Regions from separate parts of the Homo sapiens genome. Here regions 1 and 2 are each linked to region 3. The links come from fine-mapping of genetic effects on gene expression. A gene starts in region 3. Each other region holds a variant in brackets. All regions are shown on one strand. Distances are from middle to middle.

Region 1 (7,013 bases), 34 kb before region 3:
TAGGGCAAGCACAACCTCTCCTGCTGCAGGGCAGGCCGCTCACCTGACCCCAGGGTCCGCAGGGAGGAGCGATCATACTTCTTCACCCAGGCATCACCGTATTTCAGCAACAGCCGGACAGCCGTTGGGGCGCCATAGAACTGATTGATCTTCAACCTCTCTACTGTCTCCCAGTACCGACCTACAGAAAGGCCGAAATTCACTGTCAGCAGGAGAGCTGACATGGTTTACTTTAAACTCAGAGATCAGCCAAGACTTCCTGAGTGCTGGGCATGTGCAGACGCGCATATGTCCATATGAAAGGGATCCCCCCAACCCCCCACCCCCGCCAGTGAAAGATGGAAAGAAGCCCCATGGGACAGGTCCCCAATGGCCGCTCTCCTCCAAGCACTCCCCAGATCCATGGGCGGCACATTCAGGAACAGTCTTCACCAGGCTTAGGGTGATGGCCTAGTTCAAGGTGATACTACGTGGATTTAATAACCCATGGAGCATTAACACAGAGCTTTCACTCGATCACACTCACATGGGCTCTAAAGTGGTGACTGGTGCTTCCCCTGGTGACAGTACAGCTGCCACTGCGTGTGTCCCAGGGAGCAGGGCCATGTGCCCGGCATGCACACCCCTGGTTCCTGTAAACCCACTACCCACACCATCCCCTCCACATGGAACACTGAGCTTCTAAGGGCTGAAGTGGTGGCCTGAGACAGCACCTGGGCCATGGCCCTTAATCCCTGGTCTTGCCCCTACAACTTCTTCCTTGAGCACACCCAGCCCCCAAAGGCAGGGATGGAGCACTGGGAGGTGATAACACAGTCCATGCACAGTTGTCAGTGCCATGGAACACTGGAGCAGCAGCCTTTGGGCAGAGCCACCATGATCTGCTTACATTAAAGAAAATATTTGAAGACACTGTGCTGTGTGGGAGGACGATGCCCAAGGGAGCCAGTCATCACCTTGTCTTCAAAGTGATCTCAATTTAATGGAGATGGTTCTAGGCCATGCCTAACATGGTTTGAGGGACAGCCCTGAAGGCTCAGGGGCAGGGCTGGGGACACAGAAGTGGCGGGCAGCTGGCCCTGGCTTTGAGAAAGGGCTGGATCTGGGCAAGCAGCCTAGAGGTGAGAAGGATGCCAAAGCGATGGCCTGAGGCCGGCAGTTTAAGTCAGAGGGCAGGAGTGCAGGAGCAGGGGCCTTGAGATGTCCTCCAGCACCAAGTCAGACTCCCTGCTGCTGCCTGTCAGATCTTTCTGAAGACCTGGGGCCTGGCCCCACCGGGCATTTCGACAGCAGGACCTGGAGAGCCACACCCTCACCAGAACCCAGGCGTCCCCCTTCCATGAACCTCTCCACAAGCCTCGAGCCTCAGGCTCTCTCCCCTGACACCAGCATGGGGTCCCAAACAGGGTTCACCATCCTTACCAGCATTGGGATAAACTGGGGTGCTCTCAAAAAGGACGCTGGTGGCACCATTGCAGAGAGGCCCATACACCACGTAGCTGTGTCCTGTAATCCAACCGATGTCGGCCACACAGCCAAAGATGTCACCTGGCTGGTGGTCAAACACAAGCTGCAGAGACAGGAAAGGAGCATCAGGAGCTTGTCCCCCCACTCCACCATGTTCACACCAGGTCACTAGGAAATAGGCATGCATAGGCTGCAGTCCATAGCTGTGAGAGGCAGCTGGCTCCTCAAATGGCCTCCAGCAGCAGGACAGGTGGGCACACTGCAGAGTCCGTCTAGTTGTACGTTTAACACATGGACACCTTTTTGCATTACCTTATGCCACGATTTTTTAAACCCCTTAAGAACTACAAAAAATAAAAGCAAAAAAGGCCAAGAATGGCATCAAGCATCATCAGCTTCGAGGAGCATGAGAGGACAGACATCCGAATCCCCTTTATTCTTCCACAGCAACTGAGTGGAGCCTGATCCCATCTCAGGATCTAACTGCCCACGTGCAGGAAACACAGAGGCAGAGGGACAACAGGCACAACCCAGACCAAAGGACACCAGAGAAAAATGGCTGGATGTGACTATGGCCAAGTGTAAGGAAATGGGGGAGCATAGGCTTAAAAAGACTTAAAACACATATCAACAATATTTTAGGCCGGACACGGTGGCTCACACCTGTAATTCCAGCACTTGGAGAGGCCAAGGCGGGCAGATCACTTGAGGTCAGAAGTTCAAGACCAGCCTGACCAACATGGCAAAACCCTGTCTCTACTAAAAATACAAAAAAAAATTAGCAGGGTGTGGTGGCAGGTGCCTGTAATCCCAGCTACTCAGAAAGCTGAGACAGGAGAGTCACTTGAACCCAGGAGGCAAAGGTTGCAGTGATCTGAGATCACACCACTGCACTCTAACCTGGACAACAGAGTGAGACTCCATGAAAAAACAAAACAAAACAAAACAAAACAAAACAAAAGAAAAAACAATATTTTAATTGGCAACAGTAAGCTACAGTGCCCACGGATGCTCATATGGGTCACAAAACTATCAAAATAAAAACAGGGCAGGCGCACAAGACACATCAAGACATGCTGGACGGGGCTGTGGCCATATGGGCCTGGAAGGGGCTTCTGAGAAACCGGTGGCCTTCCACTTCTTGATCAAAGTGGCATTTGCCTTATAATAATTCATTAAGCCATGCATTTAATTTGGGTGGTTTTCTCTATCTGTTCTAAAAAGAGTTTTTAAAAATCTTTGGGCGAATGGCCCTTAGTGTCCTGCTGCCGCGTTACATGATCAGATTATCTGGGAGTTTCCAGACAGTGCAGTGGGGGCTTGAGGCAGCCAGGGCCCTGAGGAGCTGTAGGGTGGGAGGACTCGAGGGGGCCCTGCCCCGAATAGGCCAGGAAGAAACACTGACCTCTCACACCTACAGGCCTCGCTCTGCAGCAGGAGGACTTCCAGCCCTGCCCCTGCCTGGATCCCTGCCAAGGGCCCAGCACCGCCCGCACAGGCCTGTACCTTGTGAGTCAGGGCGGCATAGAGCAGGTAGCCTGCCTGGGTATGGACGATGCCCTTGGGCATTCCGGTGCTCCCTGAGGTGTACAGCATGAAGAGCATGTCCTCACTGCCCATGCTCTCTGGGGCGCAAACAGGGTCCTCCTTGGCCATTTCCTGGCAGGGAGAAGAAACAAACAGCCCACCGAGGGCACTCAGCCTCTCTGAGAGCAGCACTCCCCCTCCGCAGCAGGACTCCACACACAGGATTCAGAATTCACCTGCTCTGACCTGTCCAAGTTCAATTCCAAATGTGGAAAGGACACAAAACAAAAGCGTGGGTGCAAGCATTTGTGTTACAGTAAGTGTTCCAACATGCTTGTCGTATAGGAGTTTTATCTTCCCAGTCAGGACTCAAGCTCACCAAATACCACAGAGGAACCCTGGGCACCTCTAGGGAACCCAAATTGAGAACCACAACCCGAGAAGCCTCAGAGCCAGCTAACTTGATATGACCTC[G/T]CCTCAAACTGTGCAAAGCGAGGTAACCCACCTGCTCCAGCGGGACGTCCAGATCCCCCATGTGGACCTTGTTGTCTGTCCTGTGAGCCACCAGGACATGCTGCACGGTGGGGCAGTGCTTCACAGCCTCATCCACTATTTTCTTCAGCTCCACCACGCGCCCACCCCGGAGTCCTTGGTTGAAGGTGATAACCACCTTGCACTTGGCTAACAGAGACAACACAGACATTTCTGATCAGTCTCCTCCCGACTTTAACCCTCATAGCTCTGACTCACATAGGACATCCAGGCCTAGGAGTGTGAGAAACTCAGTCCAATCTTGAGTAAAAGACTCAATGGAAAAAGTGAGGGGCTGCCTGCTCTCCAGCCTTTGTGTGCCATGAAGAAGCACCAGGCCTTTGTCCAGTTCTGAGGCTGAGGGGAAGGAACCAGAGATAAATTACTTTGAAGCTCAGCTCTTCCTCCTTGAGTCAGCAGCATAAAGACAATTTCCCAACCAGACTTCCACCTTTCTCTCCTGTCTGCCCAGGAGCAAACCCCAGGAAAGAGGCCATCATGCCACCTGCAGCAATCAAGGTGACAGAGAAATACCGAGAGGCAGAGAACAAGAAAGCTGGACAACCAGAGGCCAAGCCCAAAGGTGTCCCATGTGGCCAGGCCCTGTCTAGAGTGACTTGTGTGGGCCAAGAGCCTTCACTGTCCAGAGATCAGAAACCACACCCCAGTGGATGACTGGGAGCTGCCTGCCCACCTTACCTTCAGGAGAAGGCCCTCCTGATCCCACACCTGCTCTTCAATGACCAATGTTGCTCAGCCAGGCCCAGGGGGAAGCCAGGAGGACCCTAGCTTCCATGGCTAACCTAGGGGTAGGCCCAGAGCAGAGAAGAGGGGTGCACGCACAGTGGGCCTCAAGACCCCAGGAAAAGGAGGTGTCCTCCACGCTGTGCCCCAGTGCGGGATGACCCAGAGGGATCACAGCTGCGGGGGGTTACTACACAGCCCCTCAGGAAGAGCCTGGGACAAATGCCCAGCTGTGACCCTGACTGGCAGGGCCTCACCCACATCCCTTGGGCCTTTCAGTCATTCTGCACCAAAGGCCTCTTGCAGAGCTATGGGCAGAAGTGCTGGGGAACCCTCGACCAATGGCTCTCCATAATTGGGGTACAAATCCTGCAACTCCCTACCCTTTGCATGGAGCCATTTGAGGCATGTGTGCCACATTCCCGTCCAGAGCCACCACTGCCCTACCACACTTCCAAGACAGACTCTGGCCTCAATGTCCCCTCTGGGAGAGTCCTACCTAAATAAATCTGAAAGCACTTTTGCACAACAGGCCCACCCTTTCTCCTCCTAAGAGCCCTGGAGATGTCATGGCCATGAGGGTTCCCTGAGAATTTTCCAGCACACACAGCACCATCCGGGGGTCAGAGAGATACCCTAGACCTGCCCAGATGCAGCCACCCCTGCATCTGGCACCAAGAGCCGTGGCTACACACACTCTTTGGCCTTCAAGCCTCAGCGATAGCTCACCTGGGGAAACCAAGTCAGTTGGGTGGAGCCTATCAGAGACTTTCCAGACCTACATCCCCAAGCAGGGGTTGGTCCAGGTAAGCCCCCTATGGGCGAGGAAGGGAGATGGACCAGCAGGAAGGAATGAACCTTTCTCAAGGGGACGGGAGACAAAGAAAGCTCATGGGGGTCAGAAGCTCTCACGATACAATGACCCCAGCCCATGCAACATGCTGAAATCACACTACACAGCAGGCAGTTCCTTCCCCACCTCCCAAGGCGCACACCTCACTCCTGACTCGCACCTGTCCAGGGCCTCCCTGCCCAGTAGGCTCTCCAGGAGGTCCTCTAGGAAGTACCCAGGAGCTTCTGAGCACCATGAGCATGTCTGGCCCACTGGCGCCCTCCAAGGCTGGGCCACAGCATGGGTGCTGGCAGGAACCACATGCCACTCTGGGAGGATTCAATTTTCTCTCCCTGGTTTTGAGCAGGTACCAGCATCTGCGTTCATTTTCTGCTGCTTCCATAACAAATGACCACAAACTTAGTGGCTCAGAACACTCATTTTTAGCTCAGAGTTCTGTCGTCTGGACAGGCTTGGTGGGGTTCTCTGTTAGAGTCTCACAAGGCCAAAGTCAAGGACAGGGCTGGCTCCTATGTGGTGGCTCTGGGGGAGTATCCACCTCCAGGCCATTTCAGTGGTTGGCAGAACTCAGTTCCACGCGACTGAGGGATTAAGGTCGCCTTTTCCTTGCTGACTGTCAGCCAGGGGTCATTCTCAGCGACTACAGCCACCACCTGCCCTGGTTCGTGGCCCTGTTTATCTTCAAAGCCAGCAACGGCGGGTAAAGTTGCTTTGAATCTCTCTGACCTCCCCTTCTGCTTCACTTCCTCTGCCTCTAGTTGGAGCAAGTTCTGTGCATTAAGGATGTGGGATTAGATGGAGCCCACCTGGATATCCTATTGCCTTATTCATATGTGCAAAGTCTTTCACCATGCAAGTGACATAGCACAGCTTCTGGGGGATTACAGTGTGGCCATCTGAGTGGGTCATTATTCTACCCCCACAGTCTCTCTCAAAGCCATTCTCCTGACCTCTACCCTCCCCTGCAACACTCTCCACTCCTCAAGCAGCCTAAAGCAAGAGGGAAGACAAATGAAGAGGGATGGTCCAACCCTGGAAGCCAGGCCAGGGGACTGAACTCTGGAACTGCACCTGCTGACTAAGGTGGCTGCCCAGACATGTGAGAGCCTAGCGGTCAGACTCACAATATACACCCACCTCCCAGTGGCCAACTGAAGATGGCTGCACATTCTTTCACCTGCTCTTATAGAGAAGCAGGATCCAGGTCTCCTCCCCTTGAATCTAGAATGGCCACGGACTGGTTCGGCCAATCTAGTAAGGCAAGAGTGATGCCAGGCCTGTGCCAGCCTGGACTGTAGGACACTGGCAGTTGCTATTTCCTTCCTCTTGGAGCCATGTGCTGCCATGTGACAAGCCTGACTGCTAAGGCTGCAAGGCTATGAGGAAGCCCAAGTCAGCCATGTGAAGAGGCCACGTGGAGAGAAAGACAGGCCCACCAGTCCCCAACCCTTCAAGTCAACCTGACTAATGTCCCAGATGTCATGGAGCAGAAAACAGCCATTCCCCTGTCCCCATCTGATTCCTGTCCCACAGACCCATGAAATAGAATACTAAAATTTATTGTTTTCAGTTTTATTAAACACTAAGTTTTGGAGTAGTTTGTGACACAGCAATAGAAAACCAAAACAGCCCCTCATTGACCCAACAGGACACAGATACCCATCTCAACAGAATCTTGTCCCCAGGAACCTGGTACCTGCAGAGCTGCACAAAAAGGCTGAAGGATATCAGGGCAGAGTCCTCTTCAGGACAGAGTCATGGCCCCTGCCCTCCCATGCTTGGTTGTTTAGGAATTCTGAGGTTCTGGGAGCTGCCCCAGCATCCAGCTACTAAATCCCCACATGATGAAGTCACCAAGAGTCAACTGCTATTGCTTGTTTCAAACAATCTC
Region 2 (7,013 bases), 250 kb before region 3:
GCCACTGCCCCTGGCCTCCAGGGGAAGGACTTTATTGTAGCAAATTGTACAATAGCTTTCCAAAAAATACACGAACATAGGATACTTTAATGTGTAAGTACACTCTGGTTTTTTGTTTTTGTTTTTGTTTTTGTTTTCTGAGATGGAGTCTGGCTCTGTCGTCCAGGCTGGAGTGCAGTGGCATGATCTCCGGCCCACTGCAAGCTCTGCCTCCCAGGTTGACGCCATTCTCCTGCCTCTGCCTCCTGAGTAGCTGGGACTACAGGTGCCCGCCACAATGCCCGACTAATTTTTTGTATTTTTAGTAGAGACGGGGTTTCACTGTGTTAGCCAGGATGATCTCGATCTCCTGACCTCGTGATCCGCCCGCCTCGGCCTCCCAAAGTGCTGGGATTACAGGCGTGAGCCACCGCGCCCAGCTCACTCTGGTTTTAAAATGCAAGTTTTGCCATGAGTTGAAGGTAGATTAGCTCTTGTGGTTTCTTCTGCTGTGTAACAAACCTCCTAAACCTTAGGGGCTTGAAACAAATCACTCATTATCCTTCTCACAGACTTGCAGTTTGGACAAGGTATGGCCGCTCTGTGTTCCTTAAAATAGGAGTCCAGTGAGTTTGGAGACCATGAACAATTAATTCTGAGGCTGGCTGGTCTCAGTGGGCAGTGTGCTGGTTGTGGGGGCTGCAGGCTGTGAGATCGCATGGGAGACATGGGCTGTGTGATCATGTGAGGACTGTGGGCTGTGAGATCACATGGGGGCTACGGGCTGTGAGATCACGTGGGGGCTGCGGGTTGTGAGATCCTGTGGGGGCTGCTGGCTGTGAGATCGCATGGGGACTGTGGGCTGTGAGATCGCGTGGGGGCCGTGGGCTGTGAGATCATGTGGGGGCTGTGGGCTGTGTGATCATGTGGGGGCTGCGGGCTGTGAGATCACGTGAGGGCTGCAGGGCACAGTGCAAGGCAAGCTCCTCAGGAGGCCCAGGGCAGGGCTCTGGGGACAGGGTGGGGTGAGGGTCACTAAGGTTGAGGGAGTACACTGATACACCTGGGTTGACATGGCTGTCACAGCCCTGCTGATGAGAGCTGAGAGGAAAATGGAAGGGGGAGAGATGAGGGGCAGAGCTTTGGCAAATTAGACAAGCTGGGCCTGCACACACTTCGTGGGGCCAGGAGGACGTGGCCCTACTTCTGATCTGCAGGGCTGCAGGGCAATGGGCCTCTAGGGGCAAAGCCAAGACTTGGGCACCCCATAAAAGAGGCAGGAGCATCCTGGGAAACGTTGAGGGTGTCAGGGATCATGTTCATGGTGTCACAGGAGCTACCCAGGACTCGGGACCCTTTAGCTGGGGTACAGAAGGGCTTTCACCTCGGGCGGGCACTGAGGTCAGCAGAAACATGAGATGTCGGGGTGAACGAGCACTGTGCTTCCAGCTGAGCCTCCGGTGCTAGGCTCTCTGATACCCAAACCCTCCCTGGACAGCGGCCTGCAGCGCGGGGAGATGGGCGGTGCTGTTCCCATCTCATAGCAGAGGAATGGAGACCAGCACAGGGGGAGAACGTGTCCAGGGCTCCACAGCAGTAGGTGCTGGAGTCCTAAGAGGAAGTGCTGAGCAGTATCACGATTCTCTGGCCTCTCAGATGCTATTCTCATCCCTGCCTCATTCCCAGAACTAGACTCCCTGGGGTCACGTCTCACTGGTGATGCTAAAATCCTAATTCCTCCCCGTCCCTGCACCTGCGACCTTCAGTGTCAATGGCCCTCCCTGGAGCTGTGGGGCGAGATCAGCTTCTTGCGAGGACGCTGAGCGAACATGGTCTCGCTCCTGTGATCTCGGCCCAAGCTGCCTTCAGGCCCTGGTGTGAAGAGACATCACACACACAGAAGGTGACTGATCTGTGGGCTCCAGAAGCAACAAGCTCACGAAGGTCAGGAAAGGCCAGAGAGCGGCTGCAGGTGAAAGGAGGCATGAATGCAGCGTGGGACTCCAAACCTGGACCCTGGCTATGAAGGACATGACTGAGATGACTGGCCACACTCAAGGGGGCTGAGGACGGGCCGATTAAAGTGCTGAAAAGACCGGGCGCAATGGCTCACTCCTATAATCCCAACACTTTGGGAGGCCGAGGCGGGCAGATCACGAGGTCAGGAGATCAAGACCATACTGGCTAACATGGTGGAACCCCGTCTCTACTAAAAATACAAAAATTAGCTGGGTGTGGTGGTGGGTACCTGTGATCCCAGCTACGCGGGAGGTTGAGGCACGAGAATTGCTTGAACCCAGGTGGCGGAGGTTGCAGTGAGCTGAGATCGTGCCACTGCACTCCAGCCTGGGTAACAGAGCAAGATTCTGTCTCAAAAAAAAAAGAGCTGAAAAACTGACCGTTGGGTGCTATGCCCAATGACTGGGTGACAAGATCAAACCCCAGCACCACACAGTATACCCATGGAACAAACCTGCACATCCACCCCCTGAATCTAAAGTAAAAGTTGAAATTTTAAAAACAGGAAAAAAGTTTTTTAAGGGAAAAATAAATAAATAAATAAAGTGTGTGTGCTAATTCCTCAATTTCGATAGCCACATTGTGCTCCCAGAGGAGTGTTTTTCTGTAGGGATTGCGTGAATCACACACTAAGGCATTGGGAGTGATGGAGCGTTATGTTAGCAATTTAATTTTAAATGGTTCTGGGGAAAGTTCTCCATACTGTTCTTGCAATCTTCTTTTTAAGTTTGAGATTGTTTCAAAATTAAAAGTAAAAAAAAAAAAAAAATGTATTGTCCATGGAGAGAAAGCCAGCTTTCCCTAAAGTGTGAACATAGAGACGCCCCACCCTTTCCTAGGACAACCATGGCTGCTGCTGCTAACTGAGCCAGCTGAGTTCCAGGCGCAGTGCAGGCATCTGCTCCAGGCATGACTTGGTCATCCTATGGGAGCTGGGGCAGGCACCAGACACACTTGCCTGAACACAGGAAATGGACTGGGAAGTGCAGGCCAAGGGATCTCCAAGCCCAGCTTCGGG[A/C]ATCTGTCTCATTCCTGCTCCTCTGGGCTGAGGCTTTCTGGAGGCTGAATCTAGGCAGAACCCATAGGTGGGCAAATGTGATCTCAAGGCCCCACTGTGACTTGTGACCAGAGGAGCCTCTCCCTCAATATTATAGCAAGATTCTCAGGGACTCTGGATTGGGCTATGGCGGAACCAATCCGTGTGGCTGCTAGTGCAGAGAGGCACTCTGTTTGGGCATGCAGGGTCACATGCTTAGGGGAACCGCCCTACCCAGCCCACATGGCTTGAACTCTGAACCTGGTGGGTTGGTTAAGCCAACAAGGGGAAGGAGTCAGTGGAAGTGGGGTTGGGAAAGGGGGCCTCCATGTGTCTGCACCTGCCTGACACTACCTGCCCCATACCACACCCTCCTGACACTGCCCACCCCTACCCCACCCTCCTGACACTGCCTACCCAATACCCCACCCTCCTGTCACTGTCTACCCAATACCCCACCCTCCTGACACTGTCTACCCAATACCCCACCCTCCTGACACTGTCTGCCCCATACCCCACCTTCCTGACACTGTCTGCCCCATACCCCACCCTCCTGACACTGCCTGCCCCATACCCCACCCTCCTGACACTGCCTACCCCATACCCCACCCTCCTGACACTGTCCCATGCCTGCACCCACCTGACACTGTCTGCTTCATACCCCACCCTCCTGACACTGTCTACCCCATAACCTACCCTCCTGACACTGTCTGCTTCACATCCCACCCTCCTGACGCTGCCTGCCCCATATTCCACCCTCCTGATGCTGCCTGTGCCATACCCCACCCCCCTGACGCTGCCTACCCAATACCCCACCCTCCTGACAATGCCTACCCCATAACCTACCCTCCTGACACTGTCTACCCCATAACCCACCCCCCTGACACTGTCTGTCCCATACCCCACCCCCCTGACACTGTCTACCCCATACCCCACCCCCCTGACACCGTCTACCCCATACCCCACCCTACTGACATTGTCTGACCTATTCCCCACCCTCCTGACACTGTCTACCCCATGCCCCACCCTCCTGACATTGTCTGACCCATACCCCACCCTCCTGACACTGTCTACCCCATACCCCACCCTCCTGACATTGTCTGACCCATACCCAACCCTCCTGACACTGTCTGTCCCATGCCTGCCCCCACCTGACACTGTCTACCTCATACCCCACCCTCCTGACACTGTCTGCCCTATAACCCACCCTCTTGATGCTGCCTGCCCCATATTCCACCCTCCTGATGCTGCCTGCCCCATACCCCAGGCTGGGGTGCTCAAACCTTCTCCTTCCTAGAACCCCCAGTGCACAAGACTCGGGAGGTGGGTGGTGCTCCCTGCCTTTTGCCCCCAGGCTGATTTCTCAAGAAGGCTCATTAGAGGGTGATTGGGAGGAATACTTGAGCCAGAGCTATTTGGGAGGGGTCCCTGCCCTCTTAGGTGCCCACCTCCCCACCCAGCAGCTCCCATGCCACCCCACCCTCTTGCCTGGGTCACAGTGACCTTTGTCTGGGGCAGAAATCAAGCCTCCACCCTCCACCACCGGGCAGAGCATCAGGGATGAGTGCCGACCCAGCCAGCCCGGATCTCAGCTTTCCGAGGGAAGGGCAGCTCTCAGCAAGGCTTCCTCCACTCCCCTCTCTGCTGCGATGAGTTTTGTTTTACAAAGTGTACAAACAAATAACTCCGGTATTTGTTTGGTAGACTTAGGTTTTTGTGTTTGTGTTTTGCTTAAAGTGGGACATGTCTATCACTCAGCATACCCAAACCACCTAGTTGTAAGACAAGATTTACATTTGTTCCTTAAGTAGTCAGCTCCTGTCAGTGGATGCAGCATGAAAACGTGACAAGTCATGGACTTCAACAGTCGGAAACATCTCTAAACGGTGTGTCCAGACATCACTGTAATATGTGGACTGTCTACATCAGAACCACTGGCTTACTTACTAAAAATGCAAATTCTAGGCTTGCCCATGGACTCAAAAGGTGTGGAACAGAATCCAAGAATCTCCTTTTAGAGTGGCAAGGGACTAGGGGGACAGGGGCTTCTGACCAAGAATGAGAAACCATGACGAAGGCAGTAATGTTCACAGGAGATGTGTGTGTGTGTGTGCGAGCGTGTGTGTGCGTGTGTGTGCGTGCACGTGTGTGCACGCACGCGTGTGCGTGCGCATGTGTGTGCGTGTGTGTGCGCGTCTGCGTGTGGGTGTGGGTGTGCGCGTGCGTGCCGTGTGCGCATGTGTCTGCGTGTGTGTGTGTGCGCGCATGTGTGTGTGTGCGTGCATGTGTGTGCATGTGTTTCCGTGTGTGTGCGTGTGCATGCATGTGCGTGTGCGTGTGTGCGCATGTGTGTGCGTGTGTGTGCATGTGCGTGTGTGTGCGTGTGTGCGTGTGTGTGCACGTGTGCACACGTGTGCGTGTGTGTTTCTGTGTATGAGACAGAGAGACAGAGACAGAGGTGAGGTGGGTCCCTGAAAATCTGATTTCAAAGAGGTCAGCGGGTGCTGGTGTTCTGGTGCCACACACTGCACTTTTATCTCTTTGATCCACAACAAGAAAGCAGAAATGAAAACTTCCTTCTCTTCTTTGTTAAAATAGGCTGTCTTCTCAGCCCAGCAGAAGAGCCCTCAGCCATACCAGGGCTAGCCAGCCTTCCAGAGGAGCCTGTCCCCTGCTCTCCTGGGGACCCCAGCACCGGCTGAAGCCTCCAGAGTGACTCATGGCTCTATGTCCATCACTGCAGCTCTGGAGGAGTAACCACGGCACACATACCCTTCTATGGGACACCTGCAAATACTTTTCAATAAGCTCGAGTCCATTTCATCATCAACACAAACAGAAAGACCCTCCACTAGGTCTCTCACCCGCTTGACATAAATTTGTTTTTCATATTCCTCATGGAAAATAGAGCTACGCTTGATCAGGAAGGTGAAAATGGAATGGGTGAGGGTATTTAAATTCTCTCTTCTCTCTCTTCCCTCCTTGCTATGTGTACTTGGAATAAGTGCACACGCTCAGCTTTAAGAGCTGTTTGGGACTTGGGAACCAGCTTGCCTGGACATCAGAGGCCACAAAGTCCGTCCCTGTCTCTTTGCAGTCTGTGCAGTTGCCCCGGTTGGTGGAGCCATGGTGGCTGTGCCCTGTGGGTTGTGAATGATTGCAGGGGGGCTGCGGATCAATAAATGCTGCAAGAATGACCCATAAATCAAAGAGCAATATGCCTCCCACTCATAAATGGGGCCATTTTTCAAAAAGACGTCGATGGTGTGGTGGTCAGTAATGCACACTCAGGCTGAAGGGTGGCTGCATCCCTGGGAGCTTCAGGTCTCTGTTTTCCAGAAATTCAAGACACTCACCTTGTGTCTGTGACACTTTCTTAATGTTTAAAATCAGTCCTCCAGAGGTAACATGATAAGGACCGAGAACAAACCAGGGGTTGCTGGTGAACACCAGGGAAGGACTGACAGCATGAGGCATAGAGTTTAGATGTTCAGCCCTGGGAGGGAGAAAGAGGCATGGGGGAGCTCAAGCCTACGGCCCACCTCCTCCTCTCCTCCTAGTGGAGTCCAGGCTGGCTGCTGAGCACCTCACACCCAGGAAGATTATTGCCTCTTTGTGTCCAGATTAACTGTCCCCAAAAGTGACCAGGTTCTCTGATTCACCCCCACCACCTTCACCCTGGCAGACAGGAGCCTGGGCCCTTGGCCGTGTGAACTGAGACCAGCCGACACCCTGCTGGACTCCAGCTCCTCGGCCCTGGTTCAGCCCACCCAAGACCCATAGTCCTGCCTGTCTCTGCCCAGTGACGGTTTAACTCCTACCTAGTCCATACCATGTTCCCAAAACGTTTCTCAGTGAGAAGGATACAAGTAGCCTTCCTTCAGGCCTCCACGTGCTTCCAGTAGATGCCTTGTGATGCTCTCTCCTGGGCCCTACTCTCCTTCTCCTTCCTCCACTCAGGCAGGTGGTTCTCCTGGTG
Region 3 (7,013 bases):
TTCCTCATTTCATTCTAACAGCCCTGGGATGGGTGTGCTGATAGATACTCCCATGGATAACAAAACAGGTGCAAACACTCAGGTCCCCTTCCCCAGGTCGGAAGATGCCTGATAACATCTGTGCTGGTCTCTTGGACCTCTGGTTGCAGGAAATTGCCTGGGCCCAGCCACCATGCTGTGACAAGCCCCAGGAGGTGCTTTGGGCCACAGTTCTGGCTGAAGCCAGCCTGCAAGTTGTCCCAAACAAGGCTCCAGACTTGGGAGTGAGAAACAGGCAGATGACTCCAACCTCAGACACTGAGGAGCAGGAGCAAGTGTTAAATAAAATGTATAGGAGGCCACTGGTCTGGACTGAGCTGCATGAGGCCCAATAGATCACACAAAAATGGAGTCACTCTTGCTAAAGTGCGGTGTCACCAAATGGAAACTAAGTTGTTTATCCGACCTTCTAAGAAACAAGGAGAGTGAAAGATAGCTAAATCTCCAAACAAGCTGGCATGATAAGGGAGCTCCTTCCACTTTCACCTTTACAACAAAAGTAGCTTTGAAATAACCAGTCCACTTTTTGTTCTCCATGTCTGCATCCTTCAGCCCCTTCTGTCTATAAAACCATCCTCCTCTGTTCAGCTCATCAAACATTCCTTCTGTTTTATGGAATGGGGTGTTTCCCAATTCTATAATCACGAATAAAGTGAAGTAAGGTCTTTAAACTAAATTTGTCCTAATTTTGCCCTTTGACATGAGTCATCCCCATCGGGCCCTGTCCAAAGTCCTGACTCACAGACTCTGCGAGGAATATAAAATTGTTGTTATCTTGTGTCACTAAACTTAGGGGTGGTTTGATGTACATCAATAGTAACTAGGACAGAATTCAGTTACATACGGCCCTTGTTTTACAGATGAGGAAACATGCAAAGTACAGTACAGGGAAAGCAAGAAATCAACCCGAGTCATGATTCTAAAGACACCTGGAGCCACGAAACTGTGTTGCGCCATCCACAGCCCATCATTTGCTTGCTGTTTGTTTAATAGGGCCAAGGCCAGGACACTAATCCCAATTCTGTTTTAGAAGTGCCTTCATCTGCCCTGGTTTGAGGCGTACAGGCCAGTGGTTCTCAAGCCCGAGTGTCCTCTGGAGCATCTGAAGGGCTCGTTATAAACACAGGTGTCAGGTCCCATCCCAGGGTTTCTGATTCCAGATGTCCAGGATGGGCTCCAGAATTTGTATTTCTCAAAAGTTCTCAGGTAATGCTGATGCTGCAGGTCTGAAGACCATGCGTTGAGAACCACTGGTATTCTTGAGGGGGTGAGGTGAAGCTTTCTTCAAGAGTGATATTCCTTTGGAACAAGCCATCTGACTTTATCACACACAGCTGACAGATCAGACCAAAGTGTTCTCATCCATCCCACGACTTTCTAGATGCTCCCAGAAGAGTCATGGCCTGGCCTGGCCCTTTTTCATACTGTCTTCTCTATGGTTTGCAGACACCGGCAAAGGAAAGAGATATTGCTGACCCATGAACAGGAGGGCACGCACATCCCAGGGGAGAAAGCTGCTGAAAAGCTGTTTTTCAAGTTAGTTTTCTGAAGCTCAATTTCTGGCTAACGTAGCCATAAAGGCCATATTATCAGAAGAAATAAGTGAAGGAAAAGGAGACAGAAGAATGCTTGCTGACCACACCCTGATCCTGACCGAGCGAGGTTCAGAAGGTCCTTGCTGTTGGCCCCAGGAGGTCCGCCCCACTGTCTTATCTGAGTGGGGCTGCAAGTGTGCACAGGCCAACTGTGAATGTTCCCCATGACCTTGGCCTCACAAGTCCAGAGCAGGTCACTTTCCACCTCTGTCCTTGGGCAAGCTGCTCTAGTCTCCTTCAAGGGCACATTGCCCCAACTCTGCAAACCAAAGGGTTTGGTTTTTTTCCCACTAGTTCAAGGGCACTTGCTGCTGACTCAATGTTAAAGAAAACACTTATCTAGTAAGTGACTCATTTTAATTAAACCAGCAAAGTAATATACAATTTCGGGGAGTGGGGGAGGTCCAAAGTTCCTTCCAATTTCTTTGAAAAATAACTGCAAGACACTATCTATAATTGTATGACTATTTCTGAAGTTATCTAAAATCGCTACTGCTTATGGGTCACCAGTAAGCGCTGGGTCTGCTGCACACCTTGCAGCACTCAGCCTAACCTCTGAGCATGACTGCCCCCATCCTCACAATGAGGAGACTGAGGGCTGGGGGGGCAGAACAACAAGGACAACTGAGGGAGGAGTTGGAGAAAATGGGGCCCTGGTGACCCTGCCATAAAGACCCGCAGGTCCTTTCTTAAACACTCCCAAATCCAGCAAGCTGGTTATGACCACCCTTCTGGTCTGCATCCCTCTGATCAACACCGTGTCTGCCAGCCCCTCCCCGCAGGCCCCACACCCAGGCCCACCCTGCATCCGGAGCCCACCTCGCACTTGGCACCCACCCTGCGTGGCCAGCCCTGCCTGCAGTTCAGGGCCTCCCCCTCGGTGCCCAGTCAGCGCCTTAGGTGGGGGCGAGGGTGCTGTGTACGACCCCCAGCCCCAAATCTTAGCAGAGCAGCAGGGCCTCTGCTCAGCAAGTTCCAAACAACTGACCACCAGTCAACTGTTTGGGGCCGACGTCAGACCCCGCGGGTCCAAAGCAGGCCCCAGGTCGCTGGGGTGCAGTTCTCTGAGGCCGAGAACGAGAACGGGGAGGCCGCCGTTACTTCCTTCCCGTCCACAGGCCCCAGGCCCCAGGCCCGCAGCGAAGAAATAACTGGTTCCAGCTGCCACGCCGAGTTTCCTCCTCCCCAGGTCGCCCGCCACAGCTCTGTTTGTTTACGTGGGCAGGGCTTGTCCCCAGGCTGATCCCCGGGCACCGCAGCCCGCAGTGACAACCGCCACCGCTTTGTTTTTCCCTCCACCCCGGTATGGGAACGGGAAAGTCCCGACTCCGGGGCGCTCGGGTGTAGCCCGCGGCTCCCCGCCGGCTCTTGCTCAGCGGCGCTATGCACCCGGTAACGCAACTCTGGAGTCCGCCGAGCGAGGAGCCGCGCCGAGCAAGGCCAGCAGCGGGGCGTCCCAAGCGGCCGCCGGGTCCCCGCGGGCGCCGGCCCGAGCTGGGCACGTGGATCTGGGGCCCGATGGGATGAGGGACGGGGTGACGTGGAGCCACTGCTTAGAGCGGGCGGGGCGGACGGAATACCGGAGGAGGGGCCCCTGCAGGGCTGCGATCCGCGCTGCCCGGGGACGGCTGCCGCTGGCGAGAGGCTCCGAGTCCCCTCGGGACCCAAGAGTTGGGGGCGTCCTGGGTCTCCCGAAGCCCACTCACCAGAGACATTTAACTGGCCTCCCAGGAACCAGCCGATCTTGCCAGTGCTGAAGTCGCAGTCCCAGACGGTGTGGTAGGGGGTGTCCCACACGAGAGTGTCCCGCGCCAGAGGCCCCCAGAAGGCGGCCGGCTCCCGGGCTGCCTGTGCACTCAGCGCGGGATACGAGCCTGGCTGTGCTGCTGCTGCTGCAACTGCGGGAGCGCTGCCCGAGGGTCCCGAGGCCGCCCTGCGCGGCGCGCTCACCCCGCACGGCGGCCGCGCGGGCTGCCCCGAGAGCCCTCGCAGGCTGCCCAGCAGCCTCCCGACGCCGCGGCCCAGGGTGCGCGCCGCCATCTAGGCAGGCTACCTGAGCTCTCTGTGCTCCCAGAGTGGGTGCCTCACGCCCGGGGCGCCCCGTGGAGTCTCCGCGGGCCCCGCCCCTGCTCCGCCCTTCCGCCACCATCCATTCCTCCAGGGCCCCCTCCCGGAGCCCGCCCGGGTCCCACCCCTTCTTCTGCTGCCCGGGAGAGGGGGGGCCGCTTAGGAAGAGGGGAGCAGCGTGGGGAAGGGGTGCAGGGGAGCGCGGGGCGGAGCAGGGTCCCAGGCCCTGGCCCAGGCGCTGCGCTCCGGTGAGTCTGCGGTCCCACCCGGATGTTCCTCGAGTCGGCCTGTTTTGGTTTCAGTTTGCACGCTCTCCTGCAAGCCCCGACAGCTTCTTCGAGCTGCCAGAGGCACGTGCGGCCCAGGACCCCAGGACGCAGGCTCAGGGCCTGGGGCGAGGGGACCCTCTGGGATGGGGAGGAGCCGGGAGGGAGCCGGCACCAACGTTAAGGGGGCTGGTGCACCCAAGCGCACTGGTGGGTCCCAAGACAATAGGTCGGTCAGTTCCGCATCTCAGAGGCTGAAGCCAAGGTTTTCATGCCTTTGTGCGCCCCTGAGAGTGAACCCCACCCCTGGAGTCTCAGCAGCACGCGAAAGGGGCTGGCGCCTTTCTAGGCTCCCGCCTAGAAGCCAGGAGGCTGCGCAAGCCTGAGTCCGTGTTCTGGGTCCCATGCTCCAGCCCCCCAGCTGCCGGCCTCCGTCCTGGCGGGGGTCACGTCCTGCTGGGGGTCGGTGGTGGGTGATATGGGGCGATGAGGACTTTCTCCAGTTGCTGCAGCATCTGTAGCCTGAGTTCAAACTCTGTGACCTTGAGCAAGTTCCTTAACTTCTCGGTGCCTCGTTTTCCTTTTGGGGAAGACGGAAGTAATGTCTCCCTGGGGGGCGGGGACGGCGGGGGTGGGCAGCTGCAGTAAGGAATACATTGGACAATGTCTGTCAAGCGTCTACCCTTGCGTGGCCCCATAGTAAGCTCAGTAGTGGGGATGATGTTTTTGCAGCTGTGGAGCCAGGAAGGACAGAAGGAAACGTATAAAACTGGTCTCCACCGAGTTCTTAAATATTCTGACACCCAAGAAGTAAATTCATAACAAACGGGTAAACACAGGGAAGAGAGATTTTGGAAAACTGGTTTATTGAGTTCTCTGTGATGGGAAAGTTTCTTTCCCTTGAGCTGTAGGGCTTGCAGAGGGGAGGAGCCTGCCATTGGAGGAGCCTCTGCGTGGGCTAGCCACCAGCCCCTGCTGGGGAATGCTGCTGTCTGCCAGAGAAGACAGGAGTGTACCTAGAGCTGGAGAATCAGTGACATCTACTAGCATAACACATGCCCTGCACAGTGCTAGCGCTTGACCTGCATTTTCTCCTTTATTTATTTATGATACTTTTTTAGAGATAGGGCCTGTAGCCCAGGCTGGAGTGCAATGGTTCCCATCACAGCTCACTACAGCCTGGAACTCCTGAGCTCAAGCGATCCTCCTGACTCGGCCTCCTGAGTATCTGGAACTACAAGCGTGTGCCACGGCACCCGACTAGTCTACTTAATTTGAAACTTATCTAGTGCTGTCCATTCCCACCAACTGTCAAACTCCAGGTGGAAAAAATGAGGAAACTGAGCCCAAATAAATAAAAGGACTTACTAAAGAGCATGCAGCTGGCTAAGGGAAGAGCAAGACTAACACCCAGTGCCCCCAGTGGGGAGCTCGTTGGCCTAAGTTCATTTGAATAGAATATTAAAGACACCCAGTACAGGGCACTGAGAGGCAGAGGTCAGTGAGTAGTAAAATTGTAAACTGAGAAAGCTCCTAACTGTGGCAGGGGGTCCCAAAGACGGCCACCAACTCTTCCTTCCCACGCCTGCACCGCCTGCACATGATGGTGTGCTGCTCTGTCCAGAGGAGGACCCTGGCTGGCTGGATTGCTTTGGCCAGTACAGCCTGGTGGGAGGGATGCTGTGACAGTTCCATGTGGAGGTCCTGAGAGACCCCGTAGCCCCAGCTTATCCTCCCATGGAACCCAGCTGCGAGCTGTGAGGAAGCGGGGCTGGCCTTCCAGAGGAAGGGACCCAGGGCGAGGATGAAGCTGTCCCATCCACAGCCAGGACCAACTCCCAGACAAGAATGACGCCAATGTGGAGGCTCCTGTCCCAGCCAAGGCAGCCTCATGAGTCACCCCAGATAACACCTGGGATGCAAAGGAACCTCCCAGTCCACTTACAGAATTGTAGAAGGAATAAATTTAAGCCACTAAATTTTGGGATGGTTTGTAACTCAGCAGTGGTAACTGATACAACAACTGAGGCTGAAAAATGCATGGTTCTTTCACTCACTGACTATTGCCTCTCAGTGCCCTGTACTGGGTGCCTTTCTTCTCTCTGCCTTCCAAGTGTTGAAGTGCCCAGGAGCTCAGCCCTCAAATCCCCCTTTCTCCCCTGCCCCCTAGGAAACAGCAGCCAGCTCTCTAGCCTCTCACTTTCATATTGACACCTCCCGCCTGGACCTTTCCTCCACATCTCAGTCCTGTATTCAAATGTCTCATTCACATCTGAAACATACCAAGTCCTGGGATTCTTCCCCACAACACGGATCTTCCATGTCAGTGAATGGAAATGGCATTTTCCTGTTGTTTGGGCTCATACCCTTGTCATCCTAGATTCCTCCCCCTCACACTCCACATGCAGCCTGTCAGCAAATCCTGTGACTCACCTTCAGAACACCTGCAGCACTAACCTCTTCCCCCATCACCATCCCCTCCTGCTACCATCCTAACCATACCTATCTCTTTTAGGATTATTCAGTAGGCTTCAAATTGCTTTCACCCTTGCCCCTGACAGCCTAACCAGCAGCCAGTGCAATTCCTTTAAAACAAGAGTCAGAGGAACTTGCTCTGGAGCTTGGAACAATCCAAAGGCTCCCCAGTCTCCTCAAAACAAAGACCACATCATTCCCTGGCCCACAGGCCATAGCCTCACTACTTAACGTGTGGTCCATGGGCCAGCAGCATCACTTGGATACTTTGTAGAAATGCAGAATGCCAGGCTCCATCTCAGACCTGCTGCCTCAGAATCTGCATCTTAAGCCCCAGGGGAGCTGCATGCACATTCACGTTAGAGAAGCGTTGCCCTCCCTGATCCAGTGTACCCTCTTCCTCTGCTCTCACTCATTGGGGCTCCAGCACATCAGCCTCCTCCTGTCCTTCCCATCACCCAGCAGGCTCCCACCTCAGGACTGCCACACGATGTCCCTTCTGCCTGGAATGCTCCACCCAGTTGTCCACAGAGACTCCCCCTCACCTCCTTCAGGTGTCTTCAAACATCCC

The links.
Region 1: its variant is fine-mapped to the expression of ACSS1 in whole blood (INTERVAL, PIP above 0.99).
Region 2: its variant is fine-mapped to the expression of ACSS1 in whole blood (INTERVAL, PIP above 0.99).

Annotation. Positions count from the first base shown.
Region 1 is chr20:25,019,967-25,026,979 of GRCh38, forward strand. ACSS1 (acyl-CoA synthetase short chain family member 1) reads right to left here. Exons shown (of 14, transcript NM_032501.4): 4 at 3,500-3,675; 5 at 2,974-3,126; 6 at 1,423-1,570; 7 at 44-181. Among named protein-coding and RNA genes, the nearest start is that of APMAP, 31 kb to the left of the region's middle. The variant G/T (reference allele first, on the strand shown) is at 3,469.
Region 2 is chr20:24,807,971-24,814,983 of GRCh38, forward strand. No RefSeq gene overlaps it. Among named protein-coding and RNA genes, the nearest start is that of LINC02967, 110 kb to the right of the region's middle. RefSeq lists an enhancer at 870-1,370. The variant A/C (reference allele first, on the strand shown) is at 3,017.
Region 3 is chr20:25,054,429-25,061,441 of GRCh38, forward strand. ACSS1 (acyl-CoA synthetase short chain family member 1) reads right to left here and starts at 3,711. Exons shown (of 14, transcript NM_032501.4): 1 at 3,341-3,711. The coding sequence starts at 3,674. RefSeq lists enhancers at 2,807-2,936, 3,587-4,192 and silencers at 3,037-3,306, 3,437-3,966.